Linked DNA regions of Homo sapiens: region 2 is linked to region 1. Evidence: fine-mapped expression QTL. A gene starts in region 1. The other region holds a variant in brackets. All regions are shown on one strand. Distances are between the middles of the regions.

Evidence for each region. PIP is the estimated chance that this variant, and not a neighbour inherited with it, causes the effect.
Region 2: its variant is fine-mapped to the expression of FLVCR2 in whole blood (TOPMed, PIP above 0.99).

Annotation. Positions count from the first base shown.
Region 1 is chr14:75,577,463-75,580,369 of GRCh38, reverse strand. It overlaps FLVCR2 (FLVCR choline and putative heme transporter 2), which reads right to left and starts at 1,750. Exons shown (of 10, transcript NM_017791.3): 1 at 729-1,750. The coding sequence starts at 1,397. It overlaps FLVCR2-AS1 (FLVCR2 antisense RNA 1), which reads left to right and starts at 782. Exons shown (of 3, transcript NR_110552.1): 1 at 782-2,593. RefSeq lists a silencer at 1,805-1,874 and an enhancer at 2,585-2,644.
Region 2 is chr14:75,613,927-75,616,833 of GRCh38, reverse strand. The region is part of intron 1 of FLVCR2 (FLVCR choline and putative heme transporter 2); the gene reads right to left. Among named protein-coding and RNA genes, the nearest start is that of FLVCR2-AS1, 36 kb to the right of the region's middle. The variant C/T (reference allele first, on the strand shown) is at 1,317.

The DNA.
Region 1 (2,907 bases):
TTTGGAGACGGCATTCAGGTTCACAACCTGCCCAGCTTTCTGGATCATAACCACATTGAGATGCAAAGAATTTGAGCTTCTCCTTCCAATAAGAAAGAAAGAGAAAAAGATTAAGACATGAACTACCCTTTCTAGGCCATGGAAACTCAGAGTGAGATTTCTACTCCATCCTGCTGGACTTGGCTCTAAATCCCAGGCAAGGAGTTTGGCACAAAGCACTGCTCCCACTGTCCTGGCTTCAGCTGTGTGTAAAACAAGGTAAAAGCAGTGCCAAACACCACCAGGCATGGCTTTGCAATTCTATGCAGTAGAGGAGATACTGCACTCTAGGAAAGCTGGTTGGTCCAACTGAAAGCACTGCCAAGTTCTGATGACACCAGAATAGTCTGATGCCCAGGGGCTGCTGCCAGACAGAAGAGCATTCCTGAAATTACAGGTCTAAGTTGGTGGACTGACACAGGTTCGAGAACGACACAGCGAAGGTATAGTATGTTCTAGAAGCATGCTTTTGGCTGGGGCAAGAGCAACTGTGGATGAAAGAGCAGGTCCCCCTGCTTTTGTTTCCCGCCTCTCTTACAGCATCACAATCACTGCCTGTCACACCCAGTTACTGTCACCCAGAGTCACAAACACTGTTGGACAATCAGCAAATTATAGCCTACCACACCCAATAGTTAGGTGCAATCTAACACACGCCCCTGGGAACATTCACAAACTGTTCTACCTACCTGATTGCCAAAGACAGCCACGGAGCAGGCTGTTGAAACCTCATTAGCCCCGAACCAGACGGAAGCGATGCGGGAGGGCATGCCCAGGATGAAAACCTGGGCCACAGAGCAGATGAGCTGGCCCACCACGGTGACCGGAAAGAGATGCGGCTTCAGGCTGCCCAGCTTCACCCAGGCCCCCAGGCAGTTGAGAGCCGAGCCAGTGAGAGCAATGGTGCGCAGGCCGAACTTCTCCAGCAGCCAAGCCACTGGCAGGAGCAGAGGGATGTAAGTCAGCATGTAGCACATGGACAGCCAGTCAATGGCAAAGGCACTGACACCGTAGAAGTGCATGAAGATGTTATTGATGGAGCCGTACTGGATCCACTGAAAGGAGTTGCACATGGAGTAGCAGCTAAACACCAGGACCACGGCCCAACGGCGCCTGCTCACCTTGATCACGCTGAGGTCCTCAGGGCCCGAGCTACTGGGGTGAGCCAAGCCACTGGGTTGGGCTAAGGCACTGGGGTGGGCCGAACTGCTGGGGTGGACAGAGACGCTGGGGTTGATGGAGACGCTGGGATGGACCGAGACGCTGGGATGGACCGAGACGCTGGGGTCCGCTTGGAGTGCGGACTCCGGCACAGGGGTGTCATCGCTCTCTTCCTGGTTGGGACCTTCATTCACCATCGCCACAGTCTCCTCTGGAATCCTGGAGAAGTGGTGAGGACTCCGGCAGTCTTAAGGGACAGTGGCCTCTGCTGGTCTCTTAGAGTTGAAAGGACACTTGCCTATTCCAGAAGAAACAGAGACTAGAGGCTGCGTAAAAGCCTCAAGTGGGGCTTCCTGTGCTCACCTCCAAGCTCCTGCTCCCACTTTTGCTTGGGGCTCTCTGTTGCCACCCGCGGCGATCGCTGTCCCAAGGCCGGCCGCACACGCCGCAGCCGGCTCCGGACCGCTCCTGCCTTGGGTCTCCCCACGAGGCGTTCCTTGTGCAGGAAAAGTTCTCTCCTTGCGCAGCCACTTCGCCCGCAGAGTCCTCTCCCGGGCCAGCTTGGGGCCTCGCCCAGTCGGGCACACGTGACCGCCCCGCCCCCGTCCTGCCTGGCTTCTTCCGCCCCCAACCCCCCCGCCACCACTCCACCCCCGACCCAGTGTCTCTTGCCTTCTCGAGCCCGGTCCTCCGGGCAGAGCAGTTGTTTCGCCACAGCTTGCGGGATGCATTCCTCCCCCACGCCCCGGGCGCCATGGAAACCGCCCGGTTAACCCCCACCCTTTGCACTGCCCCTCATATTCATTTGCCACCCGCTATCAGCGGACCCTGCAAGAAGATCCGCCTTCCCGAAGTAATGCCCAAAATAGAGCCTCTCCGGTGCCTGTCCGCATGCCCTGCGCGCGTGCACCAAAGCCCGGCGCCACCTAAGTGTTCTGGGGAATTCAAGAGGGATTCCCCAACTTTCTCCCCCTTGGCTTAGGCTCCCAGCCCTTTGCTGAACTAAAGAGAGATTTGTAGATTTCCCGGGCTGGTTGCGCTCCTGGGTTAAAGGGGAGTTACAGAAAACTCGCTTTACTCGCTTCTTTCCCTGCGGACGTGGTTTTGTCTTGGGGAGGTTAGATTTGAACCTGTTATGTGGGGCTATTTTTCCTGATGGATTCTGGGCGAAGACCCTAGGGTGCGGGGGAGGGAAAGGAGAGTTTGAAGAAGCCGAAGAAGCTGTCCGCGGTTGTGTGATGGAACGCTTAGCACAGAGCTGGCTCCGGGCTTGGTCTTGGAAGCGGTCTTTGAACTCAAGCAGCCCTAGTCTGCCACCTGCCGGTCCTAGCCCATTTCAAAGGGCAAACCCTCGACTCGTTGCACTGACCTCTGTCCTTGGCGAGGGATCCTGGTAAGGAGCCCAAATTCTCCCTGAGTTCAAACACCAGCTTAGCTACAATGAGGTGCCACTGTAGACCAAGGAACTCCACCTCTCTGCGCTTCAGTTTCTTCATCTGTAAAATGGAAATGATGAAATAATAGTACCTACCTCACCGTGTTGTTCTGAGACTTGAATGAATTAATACACGAATGCACTTAGAAAATTCCTGCCACATAGTAAGCATTCCGCGAATGCTGGCTATCCTAGCAAAAAGCTAACATTTGTTGTACAGTGCTAAACAAATTGAATGCATTAGCTCATTTATGCATCACAAGAATTCTGTG
Region 2 (2,907 bases), 36 kb before region 1:
CCCAGGCAGCTTATCCTCTTGACCCAAGCCACTGGCAAGGTGGATCCTGCTCCTGTTAGGAGACAACAACCTCCACAAACAGGTTCTCACCTACTGAAACTCATTCCTCTCCCAACGTGCTGTGCTATTCAGACAAAGGCAAGCCCACCCTCACCCCTAGGGCTGGGCCCCAATTTGCTCAAACCAATTGGCTCATTCCTCTCCCCTGGGCATAATCACTGGGTATGGCTGGACATGTTCCCTTAGATTTCAGAGCTCTCAGGAGCTATCTTCCTAGTGCTGAGTCAAAAAAGTCCATACTCCATAAACATGTAAAATGCCATGTATCAATTAAAAAATATATATATGTATGTATCCCTTTATTGAGCCAGCTGCTTTCTTTGCACCAGAGTCCCTGAGGCTGAAGGCTTCCATCAAATTTGGTCCCTTTATGACCTAATCTGGGGCTTGCCTCATGCCCATGCTATGCTATTTTTATTTTTTAAATTAAAAAAAATTTTTTTTTTTTGAGACAGAGTCTCACTCTGTCGCCAGGCTGGAGTGCAGTGGCGCAATCTTGGCTCACTGCAACCTCCGCCTCCTGGGTTCAAGCAATTCTCCTGCCTCAGCCTCCCAAGTAGCTGGAACTACAGGATCATGACACCATGCCTGGCTGATTTTTTAATTTTTTGTGGAATTGGGGTCTCTCACTATGTTGCCTAGGCTGGTCTCAAGTGGTCTTCCCATCTCAGCTTCCCAAAATATTGAGATTACAGGTATGAGCCACCATAACTGGACTTACGCTATTTTTTTTTTTTTTTTTTTTTTGAGATGGAGTCTCACTCTGTCACCCAGGCTGGAGTGCAGTGGCACGATCTCGGCTCACTGCAAGCTCCATCTCCCGGGTTCATGCCATTCTCCTGCCTCAGCTTCCCGAGTAGCTGGGATTACAGGTTCCCGCCACCACATCTGGCTAATTTTTTTTTTTTTTTGTATTTTTAGTAGAGACAGGGTTTCATGTGTTAGCCAGGATGGTCTCAATCTCCTGACCTTGTGATCCGCCCGCCTCGGCCTCCCAAAATGCTGGGATTATAGGCATGAGCCATGACGCCCAGCCGGCCTTATGCTTTTTTAAATGAATCTCCCACTTCTCCTTTCTGCTTCAACATTCCTCAGAGACATCATCATACTAATATAGTGCTTAAGGGCTCAGGGTCAGGGGTCAGAAAGATCTCAATTCAAATCTCGGCCCTACCAGTTACTAGAGCTTGGCAAGTTAATTGACCTCTCTGTGTGTTTCCTAATCCACAAGAGGAAGAAAATACCACCTAGCTCAT[C/T]GGGCTGAGGCTCACTCCCTGTCTGCAGGGTTGGCCCTTTCCCACACACTCTCACACAGCAGAGGTGACAGGCAGCAGAGGCCACTGGGACTCCCAAGATGCACTTGGTTTATTTGGGGAAGTCATACAAACCATCATCCTACCCTGGTTCTGCTTCACTTCCTTCTCTGGCTCCATCTGCGTGTCCTTCCTCAATTATCTTAGTCATCTTTGACTCTGCCCTCTTATATGCACTTCGTCTCAGATCCTCCCAAACCCTTCTGCAAAGTCCTCTTTGAATCTGCCCTGTCCCACTTCGGACCTTTCTGCCTTTCTCCCAGGCAACTGTGATCTCTCCTCTGCCCGACCTGCATGATGTACTCACATTCATGGTCCTTGGCGTTGCATTGACCCCACCGTCCCTGCTTAAAGAACTTCAAGGTGTCAGCCCTCTCAGAGGAAGGAAGCAGGTCCAAACCCCTCAGCTACTGTTCTTAGCCATTGATTTGGTTTGGCTCTGTGTCCCCACCAAAATCTCATCTCGAATTGTAATCCCCATGTGCCAAGGAAGGGGCCTGGTGGGAGGTGACTGGATCATGGGGGCAGTTTCTCCCATGGTATTCTCATGGTAGTGAGTTCTCACAAGACCTGATGGTTAGAAAAATGTTTGACAGTTCCTCCTTCAGACGCTCTCTCTCTCGCTCTCTTGCCTACCACCATGTAAGATGTGCCTGTTTCCCCTTCCACCATGATTGTAAGTTTCCTGAGGCCTCCCTAGCCATTTGGAGCAGTGAGTCAATTAAACCTCTTTTCTTTATAAATTACCCAGTTTCAAGCAGTTCTTTATCACAGCGTGAAAACAGACTAATACAGCTGTCTTTGCTAGTTTCAACCTTCCTTTCCAGACCCTTCTCTTCTGTATCCCTATAAATCCCCTATATTCCAGCCAGATTGAACAAGTCATGATTCCAACCTTCCCATCATCTCGTCTATACCTTTATCCCAAGTTATCCCCTTTTTAATCTTTCAGAGCCCATCACCATGTGAATTCTCTCACAGAGCTTTCCTTGACGATCCTCACTAGGCGTGATTGCCTTGCTCTAACTTCCTCTAATCTTTGGGTTGTCAGTCATTTTCCTGATACTTGCTAGTCTGGCGCTTACTCAATACATGGTTGTTGAAAGAATGAGCTGCAGTTAACTGGCATGTCAGGAAAGCACCATTGCCACTGCACATTTGTCATGTGAGCCCAGAACTGTGGAAAGATGTGGTTGGAAATTTAAGTCTAGACAAGGTTCTCAGAGAAAGTTTGATACTTTAAAAAGCATGGTTGAGGATCCTTTTAAAATAAGAGCCTCATAAAAGATACATTGAGGTTCAATCTAGACTTTCACACATTGGATTACTGTAAGCCCATCAACCCAAATGAGCAATTTTAAAGCATTCAGTATGATGCTGTCCTTGCCAAAGGATGTTTTACATGATACAGTTATTAGGTAAATGTGTATATCTACATACCTCTATGCACACTACCAATGATTTTATGGCCTAAAGATTAATCTGAAGTTAAGTTCACAGAGTAGGGCAGCTGAGGAAAACTTCAGCTGCACAG